Homo sapiens: one gene and its partners. The protein of the gene in region 4 purifies or fractionates together with the protein of the main gene of each other region. This does not show direct contact. Each region holds a gene or a part of one and is shown on either strand. Other genes may lie near its edges.

Region 1 (4,441 bases), on a different chromosome or scaffold from region 4:
GCTCCACCTGTCTCAGCCTCCCAAAGTGCTGGGATTACAGGTGTGAGCCACTGTGCCTGGCCAGTGCTTTACTTCTGTCTTTAGTACAGGCTAATGGTTTGGAGCCTACTGGCGTGCATATGACAGTCAGATAATGACTAATATTACTCATTCTTAAACCATGTGAACAGTGTTGCTAGGCAAGTCTTTTTTTAAGGTAAGACTTGTAAGTGAAATTACCACTAAACTTTGTGTGTGAGAAAGACAAAACTTTTTTTTTTTTTTTTTTTTTTTTTGAGACAAAGTCTGACTTTGTCACCCAGGCTGGAGTGCAGTGGCGCAATCTCAGCTCACTGCAACCTCCGCCCTGCCAGGTTCAAGTGATTCTCCCACCTCAGCCTCCCGAGTAGCTGGGACTACAGGCGCCCACCACCATGCCCGGCTAATTTTTTTTTGTATTTTTAGTAGAGATGGGGTTTTGCCATGTTGGGCAGGCTGGTCTCGAACTCCTGACCTCAAGTGATCTGCCTGCCACGGCCTCCCAAAGTGCTGGGATTACAGGCATGAGCCACCGTGCCTGGCTGAAAGACAAAGCTTTTACAACTATTCTTAAATTATCAACTTTTGATAGATAATATCCTTGTTTTCTGTATCTTGCTTTGATACTGCTTTCAAGGAGATAATCTCATTAAAGCATTTTACTAAAGGCCAGTATAGTGAATGTAATCACTTTTACACAGAATTGTGTCAGCATGACAAATGTGACTACTGAGACATCATTCTGTTAACATTAAAATAAGTTTGTAGGTGGTAATGGAATATGTGGCAGTTACGATCATGAGCTAGGAGAGTGGAACACTTGCTGTCTTTTTCATAGCTAGTCATAGGTCCTTAGCGTGTAGTGATCTTTATTATCTTCCAAGGTGAAGAAAGGAAAAGGCTCGTATGTTGAGAAGCATAGGAACTTGAGTCCCGCAGGTGTTCAAGTGGGCTAGGCTGGTGTGGGTTTTCAGATGATCATTGAGTTTTTCTCCCAAATTTGTATAGGCACTAGCACAGTAATCCTGTGCACTTAAATCTGGCAGCAGCTGTCAGGGGTGATGGGCTGGTATGGGGAACCCCTCAGTCCCCAGAGGAGGGTTTACACAATATTGCAGGGGGCTGTTGCCCTGGGGTTTTCAAGATGCACCATTTTATCTCCTAGTGCTGGGCTTTGACAAACTTCCTCTGTGGGGTACCATCCTCATCTCGGTGGGATGTGCAGTTTTCTGTGCCCTTATCGTCTGGTTCTTTGTATGTCCCAGGATGAAGAGAAAAATTGAACGTAAGTAATAACTAAACAGCAGAAAAGTTTAACTACTAATGTTGTGTTTATTTTTTATTTGGCCACCTGTAAAAATCTATTAGAAGAGATTGGCAAAATAAGAGATTTTAAAGGGAAATTTGAGGATATGGGTTTGTTGTCCAAACTGTTTTTAGAAATGGACTTACATGACCTAAGACCTGTTCTTAAAAATGGACTTACATGACCTAAGACCTAGTGATAAAGAGTATTCAACCTATGCTGTAGAGACAATCTGGGGCATTGAATTTTTTTATGTTCCTTGATCAGTTGCCAGTGACATGATAGATAAATAGAGAAATCATAGCCTACATTTACTGAGAAGTAGAAGGATACCTTAATGAAAAATAAGGGGTAGATACAAGATATTTTCGTAGAGGAAATATTTACCCCAACTGCTTCTGTGTATAACTTCAGATTCAGACAAGCAAAGCTAAGTCTAATGTGTACATGTTGTATATAGGCTAGAATACATGTAGACATTGTATTGCAGTATACAATGCAAATACATATACAAACACACATTGTGTGTCTGCTAGAATTGTAGCACAGATTCTAGAAGTAAACATTTTCAAGTGTCAAGGAATCATTTAGGCCATTACCACACACTCATGTAATTAAATACTGAGTAAATTTTGGTTAGTATCGGACTTTTTTTTCCTTAAAATAATCATTTTCTGCCCTTTTCATCGATGTGAAGGCTGGGTTAGCAAGTTGAAGTTTATCGTTTCGAAGCTGAGGGATGCATAGACTGCAGTGGTGTTAGGAAGAACGCTGCGTCACCGCAGCTGAACCGAAGAGCCTCCGAGAGGTTCTGTGCTAGTCTGGCTGTGCCGAGTGCACGGTGGGAACCAGGCTTTCAGGACTCTCTGGCCTCATTTTCCCTCTCTGGGAGGAGTTGAGACAAGTCTTGCTTTATGTTAGTCAGTCTGTAGTTTGACTGAGGTGCCTGGATGGATAGGTCAGCATACTGAGCACTGGCATGAGAGAGGCAGAAGATACTCTGGTCTGCCTGTGGGATTTACAGCCATGATGCACATCTCTTTGTTTTATAGAGGTGGAAATTAAAGTTGTCGTCTTTAGTTCCCTGCATTGAGCTGTGCCACTTTGCTTGAATTGGTGGACTGAAATTTGAGAGAATCCTCTTTTGAAAAGAATAGAATTGGGTACAGTTCAGATTTTTAGTTTCAGCTTATCAGCCCCATGGTTGAGCTACTTTCCCCTACAGAATGAGTCAGCAGGGAGCTAAGAAGGGTTCTTATATCTGTAAAGGGTTGTAAAAATAAAAACAAAACAACAATGTGCTACAGAAGCCCGTAAAACCTAAAATATTTACAGAAAAATTTTGGGACCCCTGACATAGGGTGTTCTGCATTGCTGGTTGTTCCCAAGTGAGAGTTGCTGGCAAATGATAAAGCAGGCAGGAAAAATGTTCCTGAATGTTAATTGAAGTTCACATACATTCTTGTTTTGAGATGAGTTTTTTGGGGGTGGAGGAAAGGAGACGTGGAACAAAGTAGTATGGCCACAACCAAACCAAAAAAGACCCCCCTTTTTTTTCCTAGGAGAAATAAAGTGTAGTCCTTCTGAAAGCCCCTTAATGGAAAAAAAGAATAGCTTGAAAGAAGACCATGAAGAAACAAAGTTGTCTGTTGGTGATATTGAAAACAAGCATCCTGTTTCTGAGGTAGGGCCTGCCACTGTGCCCCTCCAGGCTGTGGTGGAGGAGAGAACAGTCTCATTCAAACTTGGAGATTTGGAGGAAGCTCCAGAGAGAGAGAGGCTTCCCAGCGTGGACTTGAAAGAGGAAACCAGCATAGATAGCACCGTGAATGGTGAGTTGGAATTCCTGGTTTCACTTTTGTTACCTGCAGTGGTGAGGAGGCTTATTGTTTTGGATTTGATGCTTTTTGTATTGAATGTCACCTTGGTGATCTTGACTAGGTGCAGTGCAGTTGCCTAATGGGAACCTTGTCCAGTTCAGTCAAGCCGTCAGCAACCAAATAAACTCCAGTGGCCACTACCAGTATCACACCGTGCATAAGGATTCCGGCCTGTACAAAGAGCTACTCCATAAATTACATCTTGCCAAGGTGGGAGATTGCATGGGAGACTCCGGTGACAAACCCTTAAGGCGCAATAATAGCTATACTTCCTATACCATGGCAATATGTGGCATGCCTCTGGATTCATTCCGTGCCAAAGAAGGTGAACAGAAGGGCGAAGAAATGGAGAAGCTGACATGGCCTAATGCAGACTCCAAGAAGCGAATTCGAATGGACAGTTACACCAGTTACTGCAATGCTGTGTCTGACCTTCACTCAGCATCTGAGATAGACATGAGTGTCAAGGCAGAGATGGGTCTAGGTGACAGAAAAGGAAGTAATGGCTCTCTAGAAGAATGGTATGACCAGGATAAGCCTGAAGTCTCTCTCCTCTTCCAGTTCCTGCAGATCCTTACAGCCTGCTTTGGGTCATTCGCCCATGGTGGCAATGACGTAAGGTCAGTTGACATTGATCTTAGTGTTGCTAACCCTATTTTTAAACCATTTATCCTTGTCACAGGCCTGTGCTTGTGGTAGTGGTACTCCTAGCATTTACAGGACCCCAAATAATACAAATAGGATGAGGTAATAGCAGTTATTGACATAATAAGACAGTACAGTTTTATTCTTCAGAGGAATTACAAAGAATGTTTATTTTTGTAGATGATAAATATAAACAGATACTCTTCACAGAGAAGGCTTTTGTCCATCAAGATGAGATTCAGTTCTTTGGTAGTGAATTGTGGGATGTAAGATGTAAGATGAAAAACTTAAAAGTTTTTCATATAGAATGATTTTGTAGTTTGGTTTGTAAACTGTTTATTGGAACCTGAGAGTTGCTTTAAGCTGCCTATAGGAGGAAAGAGGCCACCATTTGCCTGGCATTCCCTCCATCAGAGCTGTGTTCATTTTTCTGTTGTGTATGTTGGGGTTCCATTTATGTCTTTAGAAAGAAAGGCCCTTTTGCCAGATGAGCTTGAAAGCTGTACTTTAGACAACCTGGTAGATCATTCAGCAGATTGGGTCTTGCCAAGATCTAGTTCTGCCTGAAAAGTCACTTCTGCCCTCTTTGTTT
Region 2 (4,441 bases), on a different chromosome or scaffold from region 4:
CAGGGCAGGCTTGGCCCCTGGGATGAGAAGAGAGGCCTGCTTGTCTCCTGAAAACCGTTCATGATGTAAGGAAACACAGTGATGCAAGCAGCACAGAGCAGTGCTGTGGAAGGAGCGGTGGACAGGCAGCTCGGGACAGGCCATCCACGTGAAAACACCTCCGCTCACTCAGCCATCTCCTGAGTGCCTGCGCCTCCCCCTCACTGGCTATTTTCAAAAGGGACAGGATGCTGGCTCTTACCAAAGTCTGTGTGACTGCTCATCCATCCGATGGCTTTGATAGACACCAGTGCCAGCAGTCCAGAACCCACGAACGACCCGACGCCAGAGAAGAAAAAGAACAAGCCCATTATGGCACTCTGCATGGACTTGGGGGCAGCTGAGTATGCAAATTCCAGGCCTGAGGAAAGAAAAGGGAGGGTCGTTTTTGTGAAAGGGGCACTTTAACACATGGGATCAAAGCTTTCACCTAATATAGCAGAGGAAGCGTGGGGTCTCCTAGGGACTGAGTCCTGCAGACAGGCACAACCTCTTTTCTATTAGGAGGACGATGCTTACTAGCGACCAAGAATCAATGGCTATGGGCCAACTGTTCATTCTCCTAGCCATTAGGATAATTCCTAATAAATTCAATGAGCAGAAAGTTAAACTCCTTGCTCTCAAGCTTAAAGGTAATGTGATTTGTTGGCTCTTAGACTTTTGTGTTCCTTAAAGAGATTAGAGAAAAAATTTTCCTATATTGTCAAGGAATGGGAGTTTGAAAACAAAGTACACACACTAAACTGGGAAATCTACATAAGGATTCTATTTCAGAGGCAATATACTTTATCTTTTTTTTGTTGAGACGGAGTTTTGCTCTTGTTGCCCAGGCTGGAGTGCAATGGCAGGATCTTGGCTCACCGCAACTTCCGCCTCCCTGGTTCAAGCGATTCTCCTGCCTCAGCCTCCCGAGTAGCTGGGATTACAGGTGCGTGCCACCATGCCTGGCTAATTTTTTGTATTTTTAGTAGAGACAGGGATTCACCATGTTGGCCAGGCTGGTCTCGAACTCCTGACCTCAGGTGATCCACCCGCCTCGGATTCCTAAAGTGCTGGGGTTACAGGTATGAGCCACCGTGACAAGGGCAATAGACTTCAAAACTATTTTGGCAGGCCCATCTATAAATTTAGATTTTTATAACTAGACACGGAGATTTGTAGTGTATTCTAAATAGAAGTCCATTCCGTTGTGATTTATTCCCTTTACAAATTCATTAGCCAATTCTGGATGAGTTTTCTACAGTGAAAACCACCACTGACTACTACCCACACATCCATCCACCTCTGCATATCACTCATCTTCTCTTCTCTCTCACTCTCAGCAGCCGGACAGATCTGCCCAGAATACACTTGTTCAACCACTGCAGGATCTCACTAATAGGAAAAGGGAGGCCTGTGAGAACACGTTTCTAAAAATTAGATCTGCTTCTTTACGTACATCTAAACGAAGCGCACTGAGAGCTGTGAGCTCAGCCCAGCCACCACGGCAGCATGGCCGAGGGCTCCGCTGGGAACTATCCAACCACGATTGCTTTCTTCTTCTCTGTCCTGTGGCACTTACAAGGTAGTTAACAAACTTTCATGAAAATATTTTGCGATACTGTTTTTACACAAAGAATGGAGAACCTCAGCACTGGTGTGTTTACCTAGCGATTCATATTCTAAACCACACACTGCCAAAAACTACAGAAGTGCTGTGCTATCCTTGTCTCAACATATTCCAACAGCACAGTCAGAATGCCCGAGCGCTCACGCTTGTGCCTGGACTCAGACACCTCCGGCACTAAAGGTCCTCACCTGCGATACTTGCAAAGATCTCGCTGATCCCAATCAGCAAGTACTGCGGCACCTGCCACCACAGCGACAGATCGGCAGCATGGTAGACGACGTTGCCGATGGTCTGATTAATGGTTTTCTCTTTAACAAGGTTCAGCCTTTTACTCTCCAAAATTCCTAGAATTCAAAAGTAGGTTAGTGTAATATTCATTTATTAACATTTACAGTTAATCTAAAAATCTGATGTTGGCTACGAGACTTCGTAGCAAACGTGATTCTGATGCGTGAAAGGACCACGTCTAATCACAGCTTCCCCCAGGACTAATAGGCCCCCAGCCTTCAGCCTCCTAAGCAGGCTGAGTGGAGGTCATGGCATAGCACACCTATTTCACTTCGGCTTTTTACAGCATCTTATATAAAATCAGATGTTCAACATGTTTCATTTAATCCTCAAATATCTGGATTGCTCACCCATACCTCGTTTGTCTCTTACAAAGGGGAGTAGGAGAAAGTTAAAAAGTCCTACTGTAGAATTAACAGTAGTGCTATTTTACCCAACAGCAGGTAATACTGAGATGTTCTTCCAATCATAGTGATGGATCGAAGGTGATCTACTGATTTATTATTATAACAACAAATGATGATAATAATGATGATGATGATGTTGGTTTCCCTGCATAGGGTAGGCTTAATCTTTGCAACAAAGTAAGCTGACTTCACAAATCAACCTGTGCTCTCAGCAGCATTGAGATCTCACTGCAGGTGCAGGCTAAGTTACTGGTCACCTATCAAGTGTAACAGAAAGACATGAGAAAAACAAGCAAGGGCAGCAGCTCCTACTCTATAAACAAAAATCAGCCACTGGAAATAAAGTGTAAAAGCATCTATTCGCAGGTCCAAGTCCTTAGGTTAAAGATACCACCAAGTTTTATTTTATAAAGAATTCTTATTGCAAATTAGGTCACAGGCCCTAATATTTAAAGCGTATGTAAAATATGTTTATTTTAAAACATGAGTATGAAGAAAGGTCTGGTCAGAGGGCAATGGAATGAAAATATTAAAAATGTTCCTTCTAAAACCTGAGCATGAGAAAGGACCAGGATATGATCCATAGGGCGATGAGAACACAAACTCTGGAATTTCCACCTCAAATCTCAACTGAAATGCCAAGCAAAGTGAAAACATTCTCCAGGATCAAAGTAGAGAGAGACCTTCGAGCCAACCCACAGCTTACTTCCATCAGAAAACCTGCAGCCCCACCCTGGAAGAGTGTCAAGGGAAACCCAATCCTTCCACTCCGCCCTCCACGGGAGAAACATAAACGCAGACCCAGGCAAGGACAGCAAACTATTTAGAGCCCTTAGTTGTTCTGGAAAGGGCATCTGAGGGCATCTTAATCAGGCAAGGCTGGTAGTGACAATAGGGACTGTCCCCAAATGACAGCCTTCCTCCCGACAGGGCAGCTGACAGCAACCATAGCACTGCACCCCTAGCCCTGGCATCAGCGCCTTCAAACACGAAGAATGAACTGTGTGACAATGGCTTCCCCTAGACACCCAAGGTCCTCAGCTCCCACCTGCTCCCCTGGGACCATAGCTGACTACACTGGTCCCCACTCCTTGAATGGGAACAGAACCTATGCAACTCAAGCAGAAATTCAGGTCTATTTTGGAAATAAACACGAAAGCTGAATACCACTTTTCTCCTTCACAGGAGAGGAGGAGAGCCTAAGGATGACACCAAAGTGTCTGCAGGGGGCGGGACAAGGGAAGGTTACTCATGCGGAGGACAATAAGTAGATTTTATAACCTGAATGGGAAAGATACTACTATTGCTACTGGCATAGTTCTACCAGAGAACTTGTCTTATTATTCAAGAAAACACAGACTCTGAAGACTAAGGATGAAAAAGGTAACAAAGAAATTAAGGGGACGTTGGCTTAAGAGAGACACAAATGATGAGATCAAGAATTAGGAGAAGAGAAAATGAGAAAATAAATAGGCCTGATTATTGGTGAGGCTGTTGGCAGAGAGATGAGCAGCGGCAAAGGCGCACACACAGCCAACACTGCGGAAACCAGGATCGGGACGGGTGCCCCCAGTCACGAGCGAGGCGGAGAGGCAAAGCCAATGGGGAAAATGACCCTGCCTGTGAACAACTGAGAGCCCTGGAGAGGCTGGGACAGGCCGAAAAGCAGCAGGGTTCAGGCTGAGTGACAGTGACATGGCAAGCGGGCACCCAGTAAAAACAAGCATGGGATGCGACGCTGGATAATCAACACAGCAGTCAGGATAAATGAGCCAAATCCTTCAGATAAAAGTCATCCACTTGTATCAGTTCAAAAAATAAACAAAACTGAGTATTACGGTTAATACACAGAACTAAAGCATAATATAACCCAAAGATTGTAAATAAAGGAGAGGACAGGCCAGGATGTATCAGACAAACAATCATAAAGGGAAGAGGTGTCAACAAAAATACCAAGAAGAGAGAAAAAGAATCAAAAACCAAAATAACCAATAGGTGCCATGTATGAATTGTTCCTTGTGTGATGAGCCGCTTTTGTTGATGGATTCACAGACAGCACCTCATTTATTATTCACAGTAAGCTGGGGGGAGAAATAAC
Region 3 (4,441 bases), on a different chromosome or scaffold from region 4:
ATGATGACATCATCATCCGAGTGGGAACTTGCTGAGAGTTCAAAGCTTGAGGGAAAGGATGCATTGTAAGAACTACGATTTGCTTCCAGTGAAACCATTTGGTCGAAGTCCACATCTTCCAAAACAAAAGCAGCTGGCACAATAATACTTGCCACTAAAGTGAATAAGCAACAATGTAGCTTCATGGGAAAATGGGACAAAATCTTGTTTAGATTTGGAGAACTCAAAAACTTCTACACTACAACAAAAGCACAGCGGGTAATTTATTGCTTGGTAGAGAAATTTTCCAAACAAGTGGTAGATCCAGTTATATTTTCTAGTCTTCAAGATTAAAAGATGTGAGTAGAGAACCTAAAAGAAAGCCAGATACAAAGTTTAACCAACTGAGATTCATAATGGGGTGAAAGTGCGTATGTTCCAGAATGAATAGATGTTAATTAGAATAATTGGTGCTGACATTGGGGAGTAATTAGATGGAACAGTACCTAAAAATCTCACACAGAGACAGCAGAAAAAGCAATGAATTGGTAAATAGCAGACCTAGATTTTGGTCCTAGCTTTGCCACTAACTAGCTGTACGACCTTGGCAAGCAGCATTCTCTCTGGGTTTCTGTTTTCTCCTCTGTCAAATAAGGGACTGGATGAGATAATCTCTAAGGACTCTTCCAATTCTGAAATGCCATGATTCTATTTCATTCTGACAAATTTTATGCAACAGGGAGCCAATGAAGGCTAAAATATTTATCTTAATGATCTTTTATTTCAACCTGCACCATTACCATCTGTTGTTATAATGTAAATCAACTGGCATATCATAATCATAACCATGGAGCTCAAAATTTGAGTAATTCAAGTATGAAGATATGTTACATATAAATAATGCAGGGACACCTGAGGTGGGTTGTTTTAACACTGGAAAGAAAGCTGCACTTACTGCATACACATAAATAGAGTTATTGACTTCTAAAGCTATGGAACCTCCTTCATGGGCAAGAACATTAGACAACAGAATTTTCTTTTAATAGTTTCTCCAATACGAAGAGACAAAGTACAGTGTATTTAATAGTTTGTAAGCATACCAAATTTCTAGCTCAAACTCTGTAAACTAGCTAAGGGAGGAACTGACATCTTAAGTGTCTAGTTAGTAGAAATGCAAATATAAAACTACAGGGACAGATTGTTAGACACATTTAAAAGAAGAGCAAAATATCTTGAATAAAAGGCAAAATAACATCCTAGTCCAAAAGTCTATGTATTTATGATCACCTTCCTGGTAATTTGACTCCCCCTTTAAGCCACCAACTCTCAAAGAAAAAATTCAACTTTTATTTCTATAAAATATGGGATGAAATGCCTAGCTTTATGTCTTATAAAGCACCAAGATAATTAGTTTTGGAAATGACATTTACTCTCCTTTATATTTATATGAAGGCTGCTTGATCACAGAACATAAAAAACAATGAATCACTGTATTTTGCCATTAAATATCTCAAAGTCTAAATTACAATACGGTGCAAATGTCATTTAATTTTCATTAATTAACCCTTGAAAGGATGGTTGAATGGTGACAAATACTTTTCTAAATCTTTACAATTTAAGGATGGGGTATACAGAGTAAAATAAAAAACCTTCAGACTTTGGCAATACATGACACACTAAACGTGTTTATTTCCATTTCCTCCTAAAACCGCACAAAAAGGACACTAAAGGAAACAAAGACTTAGGCAGAGAGGGGATTTTGGAAGTAATATAATCTAATTGATTCAGTGCACAGTGATTTGCTTCTTACGACATGCTACAAGTTAGTAGGAGAATCTAGTTTGGAATACAGTCTCTTTTTTAAGAGGGGGTGATGGGTAGAAACAATGGAAATAACATTTATTGAATGACTGCCATCAGCCAAGCACTGTGCTAGGGGCTTGACATGTAAGTTTCCAAGCTCTTTTTCACTGCAAGATATACAGCAATTGGAGGACATAATTTTGTACTTTATTCTAGATTAGTGGTTCTCAACGGTGACAGGCTATGAGTGTGCTGAAAAAATGCTCCAGGCTTTCTCCAGAACTTTGATTAGGAGTTCCTATAGCTTCATCCAGGGCAGCACTTCCCAAACTTCATTCATTCCTTCTCCTGTCTTTTTTGTTGTTGTTGTTTTTACTATATCCATGAACCAAATTATCGTCATTTCTGCTTTTCTTTTAAATCAACTCATTTTATTTTTACTTTCACATTTATTTAAAAAGGAAACTCTACATCAGTTCTGTGGACAAATGTAACCGTACACATAAACATAATGAAAACAAAGAAGTGTTATTAGCTTCCAGAGATACTACTGCCTGCTGAAAGGCTTTGAGCTGGAGGCTTGCTCTCTCTGTAGTAAAACCAAAACCAAAACAAAAAGCCCCCCACAACTCCAGTTTATTTTAATGCCACCTCATTTCTTAACCTGCCATCTCCTTCCTTTCTACTCTTCCCCACCACTGAGTTTGAGATCGGAGGGATACATTTTCATATACTGAACAGTATCTATTGAGCACCTACCATGTGCCTACCTACTGCCCCATAGACATTGTCTCGGCCTCCACGAAGTTCAGTCTGGCAGATGATGGACACTAACTACATATATACAAAATAAACTCAATGTTACCCAAGGGAAAATACAGATGCTACAGGAGGACCCAACATGGGGAGTTAATCTCATCATGGAAAGCCTCTGAGAAAAAGAGGTGTGCAGCACCTATTCTTCAGGTGCAGGACCTGAAGAATAAAGAGGAATAAAAATTGGGAGGAAAGCACTCAAGGTAGAGGGCCAGGAGACAGGGAAAAATGAGAGGGGTCACTGGTCAGGAGTTGTTCACAAAAAACAGCTAAAAAATTGTGGTAAAGACAGGCAGTGGCCAAAAATGCTGCGTCTGATTCCTGATTCTGGAGGAGAACTAACTGGGCCAATGGTGAAACTGGAGATAGACTCCGGAAGCTGCAGTGGCTGAAGTGAGTGAGGGAGATATTCGTCCATGATGAAGACGTCAAACAACTGAGAGGCTCAAACGTGGGCAGATCACCTGGGGGTATGGTCACATCCCCCCAGGATCAAAGTAGCTAGTGTAGAAGAAACTGGAAAGAAAGGAAATGGATTCGGTCTTCCTGCTCTGAGATTCAGGAACTTCAGCAGAATGAACAGCTGTCACAGGCGAGGGCTGCAGGGCAATGAGTGTCCTCACCAACACAAGGCTTGGCAAAGCATAACTCCCACATGGAATTCTGCCTTCCCGCAAACTTCCTGAACCTCCTATCAAGGCCTTAGCTATTCCTCCTACATAAATTCAGAGTATAGCTGTATAAAGGATGGCTTCTCCTTCACCCCAGAGCCCTCCCCACCTACCGTACTCATCTGGCGCTGGTATATGCTGCTCTGTACTGCTAGGCAGTCTATCCCATCTCAACTACCCCTTAAGAACAAGGCCTATATTTTTTATTGCTGTACGTCATAACTAGCACATGCTCAATAAATATTGATGGAGATTAGTTTAAATTTGATTCAGTATGTGACAGATCTTTATAAATTGAATAATGTTATGCAACAGGGATTATAATTGTTCAAACTGACATACAGTTGCCTATTATAAATTCTCTGAAACAAAAACAGTCAATGCTAACAATCTTGGAAGACCTTAAAAGTACCTAATTAAATGCATTCTTCCGACTCCCAACCTGATACCTTCATTTACCATGTTGTCCTAGAGGATAATGGTAGGAATAAAAGATCACCAAGTGCAGTTTCCAAACCAGGTTGAATATCACAACTGTCAGGAGAGCTTTTTAAAAATATGGATTCCCAGGTCCCAACCCAGAACGAGTAAGAAACTCTGTGTTTGCGCCTTGGAATTTATGACTTTTAATTGGCTCCCTGGGTGTTTCTGAGGCATTGGATTCATGTACTGCATCTAAGGGCCACTAATACAGTTCCTCAATTTCCTCTGCAACTGACCTGCAGAATGGTGCTTCAGGCTATTTGAATATTTCCAATGAGAGATATAATCACTCACATTCCATTCTAGATTTAGATTACTCTAGATCAGCAAAATTGAAGGTCTCTAATAAGAGCAGGGTAGCAGAGAGGTTCAGAGTATAGGATTCAAATACGATCTGTGACTCTAACCAGCCTTGCAACTTTTATAAATGACTTAATCTCCCTGCCTCAGCCCCTCATCTTTAAAATGGGCAAAATAACAGAATCTATTCTCACAGGATTATTGCAAAGTCTGAATGAGGTAGTATACATAAAACACAGAGTCTGGCAATGGTAATCACTGAATAAGCTCTATTATTATTGTTCATGGTTCTTTCAGATATTGAACTAAAATTTACATTTGATAGTTACATCATTATAAAACACTCAGAATACCATGCAACCATTTAAAAATCTTGGGGGTTGGGGGGA
Region 4 (5,384 bases):
GTCTGGAGTTCGAGAACAGCCTGGCCAAGATGGTGAAACCCCGTCTCTACTAAAAACACAAAAATTAGCCGGGTGCGGTGGTGGGTGCCTGTAATCCCAGTTACTCGGGAGGCTGAGGCAGGAGAATCACTTGAACCCAGGAGGCAGAGGTTGCAGTGAGCCGAGATCGCTGCACTCTAGCCTGGGCAACAGAGCAAGACTCCGTCTCAAAAAAAAAAAAAAAAATGCTACTGCAAATTGAGATGTGCCATGAGTTAAAATATACGCAGGATTTGAAGACGTACTGTGAAAAAAATGCTGTAAAATATCTCAATGTTTTATGTGGATTACATATTTAAGTGATATTATCTGGGGTACATTAAATTAAAATGCATTATTAACATTAATTTCACCCCTTCTCACCTTTTTTAATGTGCTGAGTGTGGATTTAAATTTCATATGTGGGCTGGGCACAGTGGCTGACACCTGTATTCCTAGCACCTTGGGAGTCCAAGGAGAGTGAATCACTTGAGCCCAGGAGTTTGAGACCAGCCTAGGCAACATGGTGAAACCTCGTCTCTACAAAAAAAAAGTACACTAAAAATTAACCCGGTGTGGTGGTGTGCACCTGTAGTCCCAGCTATTTGTGGGTCGGGGGGAGAGGGAGGGTCCGGGAGGTCGAGGGTGCAGTGAGCTGAGATCACACCACTGCACTCCAGCCTGGGCTATAGAGCAAGACCCTGTCTAAATAAATAAATAAATAAATAAATAAATAAATAAATAGGCCGGGTGCAGTGGCTCACGCCTGTAATCCCAGCACTTTGGGAGGCCTAGGCAGGCAGATCATGAGGTCAGGAGATCGAGACTAGCCTGGCCAATACGGTGAAACCCTGTCTCTACTAAAAAAATACAAAAATTAGCCAGGTGTGGTAGTGTGTGCCTGTAATCCCAGCTACTCAGGAGGCTGAGCCAGGAGAATCTCTTGAACCCAGGAGGCGGAGGTTGCAGTGAGCCGAGATCACGCCACTGCACTCCAGCCTGGGTGACAGAGTGAGACTACGTCTCAAAAATAAAAAATAAAATAAATAAATGTGTGGCTTATATTTCTTTTGGCAGTGCTGGTTTAAGGTGTGTAAATGCAGAATTGATGAACTGACCAAGCTAGGTAGAGGAGATTTCCCTCTTTTGGTTCCACACATCCCTGAAAGAGGAGTCCCCCAGCCACCACTGCCAGCTTCTGGGAATCCTGTGGCATTTCATTCACCGGCTTTTCTCTCCCCTCCCAGGACACCATATCTCAGAAGACGGTAGAGATTGCATCTCCTGCAAATATGGACAGGACTATAGCACTCACTGGAATGACCTCCTTTTCTGCTTGCGCTGCACCAGGTGTGATTCAGGTACAGAACATATGGACCCCATGCCTAAAGGTGGAATGCGGGGTGATGACATAAAAGTTGTAGCTAAAATGGGATCAGGAGACCTAGATTCTGGTCCACCTTGGTCTTCATCATACCATGTTCCATGATTTTGTCTTTGAGCTTTTTAATAAATAAAACAGGCCCGGCACAGTGGCTCATGCCTGTAATCTCAACACTTTGGGAGGCATCACTTGAGCCCAGGAGTTTGAAACCATCCTGGGCAACATGAGAAACCCCGTCTCTACAAAAATATAAACATTAGCCGGGCATGGTGGCGCGTGCCTGTATTTCCAGCTACTTAGGAAGCTGAGGCAGAAGGATCTCTTGAGCCCAGGAGGCCGAGGTTGCAGGGAGCCGAGATTGTGCCACTGCATTCCAGCCCAGGCAACAGAGCAAAACCCTGTCTCAATAATTAATTAAAATAATAATAATACAGAAATTATTTGTATAATGTATGCTACATGGTAAGGAAATCTTTTAAACTGTCAGCTGCAAGGGGGTGGGGCCATGAGCCAGGCCAAGTGGACAGGGCTGGATCTCAGCAGTGGCACAGGTCTGCTTTGGGGCCAGGCTCTCTCCCCTGGGCTCTGTGCTCCTGGCAGGTGCTCGGCCTCACTCACCCTTCAGGTTCTCAGGCCTCTCCCTCCTCCCCAGCAGGCTGGGCCTTGGGGAAGTCCCCCAAGGGCTCCTCTCCTTGCAGTCTCTCAGGTGATCCCTTGCACTTCCCTTGCTACTGGCCATGCAATCTAAACGATGCTTGTCCCCTAAACGGTGCTTTCCCCTAATCTAATGTAATAAATAATGAACTGTGGTCCTTTTGTATGACTCAACGAGTGTTAGTGACAGCTGAAGGGTGGGTATCCTGAATGAGCCATGAGTGTGCTGGTGCAGAAACTGGCCCTCAGAACTCCTTGGCAAACTGAGTTGAGCTGAGTAGCAGGGTCTTGGGGTGGGGAGGAAGGGTCAAGGGACACATCAGGAAAACACATTCCCAAAACCTTATGCTCTGTCGTCAGGTGAAGTGGAGCTAAGTCCCTGCACCACGACCAGAAACACAGTGTGTCAGTGCGAAGAAGGCACCTTCCGGGAAGAAGATTCTCCTGAGATGTGCCGGAAGTGCCGCACAGGGTGAGACAGGAGCCGGGGGCTCCCAGTAGCTCCATGGAACCCCAAAAGACCCAAGTCTCCTTGTACCCCTGTCTCTCCCCTGACAGCACCCGCAAGGGGCATCCTTGAGGCTGTGGCTGCCCCTCCTGGTCCCTCTGCGTGTCACCACCCCTGCCCCCTGCAGCAGCCTCTTTCCACCCCTCCCCAGCACGAGTCCCCTTGACCAGGCTGACTTGTTCACTGACCACAGAAGGCCATGACTTGGGGCCCATGATAATTTTAGGGGCCCATGAAATGATTTAATTTCTCTTGAAATAAGAAGAATGAGTAGAATGCAGCCAGGCATATATTCATCTTTATACCAATTCAGCAATAAAATGTATTTTTTAATATTTTTATGCATGCAGGGGCCCATAAAGACAAAAGTGCCCATGGCCCACAAAAGGCATAATAAGGCCATGGGTGGAGCTCCTTCAAGTTCCCATGAGGACCTGAGCCCACCCAGCCGGCCTCACCCCTGGCCCCTGATCCCTCAGTAAGACCTGTCTTTTCCCTATTTGGGTTTTAGGGGCCAAGAGTAATTTGCTCTTCTCTGGCCCCCCTAGTATTTGCTGTGATTGGGGGAAATGGGCAGACAGCTGGGGACAAGAGCTCACTTTTGTGGTTGACTGGAAGACCGGACTCATCTTGTGGCCACACGGGCTTGTGACCTTCCCCTGGAGTGTGATTGCTCCTAACGCAGGCCTCCCCTGCAGCCCAGGGAAGCTCAGTGTGTGCCCAGCACAGAAGGCTCCTGGAACTGCAGCTCTGACCCCAGAGCAGGGAGGCCGAGGGGCTGAAGTGCGCATGCTCAGACCCTTCCCCAGCCTCAAGAAGGGAGCACAGGGGGACCCACTGCTGACACGAGGAGACTGTCCTTCCCCTGACACCTTCTCAGGGACACTGGGGAGGGAGGGTGGCTCCTCTTTCATCCCACCTGGCCAGCTTTCCATCAAGAGTCCCCCCTCTCCCTCTGTGTGTGTACCCAGGTGTCCCAGAGGGATGGTCAAGGTCGGTGATTGTACACCCTGGAGTGACATCGAATGTGTCCACAAAGAATCAGGTACAAAGCACAGTGGGGAAGTCCCAGCTGTGGAGGAGACGGTGACCTCCAGCCCAGGGACTCCTGCCTCTCCCTGTTCTCTCTCAGGCATCATCATAGGAGTCACAGTTGCAGCCGTAGTCTTGATTGTGGCTGTGTTTGTTTGCAAGTCTTTACTGTGGAAGAAAGTCCTTCCTTACCTGAAAGGCATCTGCTCAGGTAGGTGCTGGCTGAGGGCGGGGGCACAGGGCACTCTCTGCCCTGCCCCCTCCCACCCTATTCCCACAGACAGAAACGCCTGCCCCTGCCCCAAGTCTAAGTGCCTCCAGCCTGGCTCTATCCTCCTCCTCGTGGTCACCCCCATCCCCACATCCCGTGCACCCCCCAGGACCCTGGTCTCTTCAGTCCCTCTCCCAGGTCTGGGGGTCCCCATATCTCCCAGCCAAGTCCAGGAGGGCAGGGCCAGTTCCTCCCATCTTCAGGCCCAGCCAGGCAGGGGGCAGTCGGCTCCTCAACTGGGTGACAAGGGTGAGGATGAGAAGTGGTCGTGGGATTTTTTCAGCCTTGGTCAGAGCAGAACCAGAGATTTTCCAAGTGTTTGTTTTTACTCTAGTTCCCCTTCTCATCCCCCTTCCTCAGGGTGTCTCTGAGTTGTAAGGCCCCATTCTGTCCCCAGCCCCAGGGCTCCTTGTCCAGTGTCCCAGCCCCCAGCCCAGCCCTGCGCCCCACTGTCCTCTGGGAGGGGGGTGCTTCATGGGCCCCTCCCTTCCTGCTAAGGAGACTGCTTCTTTTTTAGGTGGTGGTGGGGACCCTGAGCGTGTGGACAGAGTGAGTTGATTTCTCCAGGAGCTGGGGGCTCAGGGGTTCAGGAACTGCTTCCTGGGACAGCAGAACCTGGGTGGGTGGGTCCCCATTGTCCTCATGGCTGCCCTGACTCTCTGAAGTGGCCTGGGTGCTCTGGGCTGACTGTGGGGGACACATGGCCATTTTGAGCACCACATAGGCTGGTGAGCCCTGCTGCAGCCCAGGTGACATCCTCACCCCACAGCCTGCACCCTAGGGATGGGGTGTCTGCCTGAGCACAGCACTGGGGGCCTGGCCCCAGCAGCGGGTCCTGGATGTGCTGAGTCTGGGCTGCCTGCGGTGACCTCACTGAGAGGGGGTGGGGATGTCAGGTGCAGCTGCATACTGAGGACCCTGCAGCGAGCCCTAGGTGTGGACTCCTGAGTCGGCTTTTTGCCTTCCCAATGTCTTTTTCCAGAGCTCACAACGACCTGGGGCTGAGGACAATGTCCTCAATGAGATCGTGAGTATCTTGCAGCCCACCCAGGTCCCTGAGCAGGAAATGGAAGTCCAGGAGCCAGCAGAGCCAACAGGTGTCAACATGTTGTCCCCCGGGGAGTCAGAGCATCTGCTGGTGAGTGGGGGACAGATCATTTTGTTTCCTGGCATGCTGCTCACCTGGGATTTCGTAGACAGTGGGAGAGGGCAGTGCCTTAGCTCTCCTGGCCCAGGGGAAATGGAACCTGAAGGAGCCAGGGGACTGCAGGGGATGGAGCAGCTGCACTGAGGTGGTGACCGTGCCAGTCTGCAGGACATCTGCTTCTTACTCCCTGTCCTGTCCTTGCTGTGTCCCCCGAGCCTGGAGCTCCACAGGCATAGAGTGGGGGTCACAGGGTTCATTGATGAGTGAATAAGGCTGCACAGTCTCCATCGTATGCTCCTAACAGAAGTCAGTGAGCCCTTGCTTGTAACAGCAGGAGTTTTAAATTTACTCTGAAATTGTTATTACATTG

The links.
Region 1: the proteins of TNFRSF10B (region 4) and SLC20A1 purify together in Homo sapiens (affinity purification with mass spectrometry; 2 studies listed by BioGRID and IntAct, with this or other methods). This does not show direct contact.
Region 2: the proteins of TNFRSF10B (region 4) and SLC15A4 purify together in Homo sapiens (affinity purification with mass spectrometry; 3 studies listed by BioGRID and IntAct, with this or other methods). This does not show direct contact.
Region 3: the proteins of TNFRSF10B (region 4) and MFAP3 purify together in Homo sapiens (affinity purification with mass spectrometry; 3 studies listed by BioGRID and IntAct, with this or other methods). This does not show direct contact.

The regions. Positions count from the first base shown.
Region 1 is NC_000002.12:112,655,939-112,660,379, forward strand, and holds part of SLC20A1 (sodium-dependent phosphate transporter 1), read left to right. Parts: intron 1-1,183; coding exon 1,184-1,303; intron 1,304-2,886; coding exon 2,887-3,156; intron 3,157-3,265; coding exon 3,266-3,824; intron 3,825-4,441. UniProt on the Homo sapiens protein: Sodium-phosphate symporter which preferentially transports the monovalent form of phosphate with a stoichiometry of two sodium ions per phosphate ion. May play a role in extracellular matrix and cartilage calcification as well as in vascular calcification.
Region 2 is NC_000012.12:128,799,018-128,803,458, forward strand, and holds part of SLC15A4 (solute carrier family 15 member 4), read right to left. Parts: intron 1,993-4,441; coding exon 1,837-1,992; intron 401-1,836; coding exon 242-400; intron 48-241; exon of another isoform or gene 1-47. UniProt on the Homo sapiens protein: Proton-coupled amino-acid transporter that mediates the transmembrane transport of L-histidine and some di- and tripeptides from inside the lysosome to the cytosol, and plays a key role in innate immune response.
Region 3 is NC_000005.10:154,045,467-154,049,907, reverse strand, and holds part of MFAP3 (microfibril-associated glycoprotein 3 isoform 1 precursor), read right to left. Parts: intron 352-4,441; 5' UTR 186-351; coding exon 1-185. UniProt on the Homo sapiens protein: Component of the elastin-associated microfibrils.
Region 4 is NC_000008.11:23,026,754-23,032,137, reverse strand, and holds part of TNFRSF10B (tumor necrosis factor receptor superfamily member 10B isoform 1 precursor), read left to right. Parts: intron 1-1,265; coding exon 1,266-1,379; intron 1,380-2,416; coding exon 2,417-2,528; intron 2,529-3,535; coding exon 3,536-3,807; intron 3,808-4,384; coding exon 4,385-4,416; intron 4,417-4,849; coding exon 4,850-5,005; intron 5,006-5,384. UniProt on the Homo sapiens protein: Receptor for the cytotoxic ligand TNFSF10/TRAIL. The adapter molecule FADD recruits caspase-8 to the activated receptor.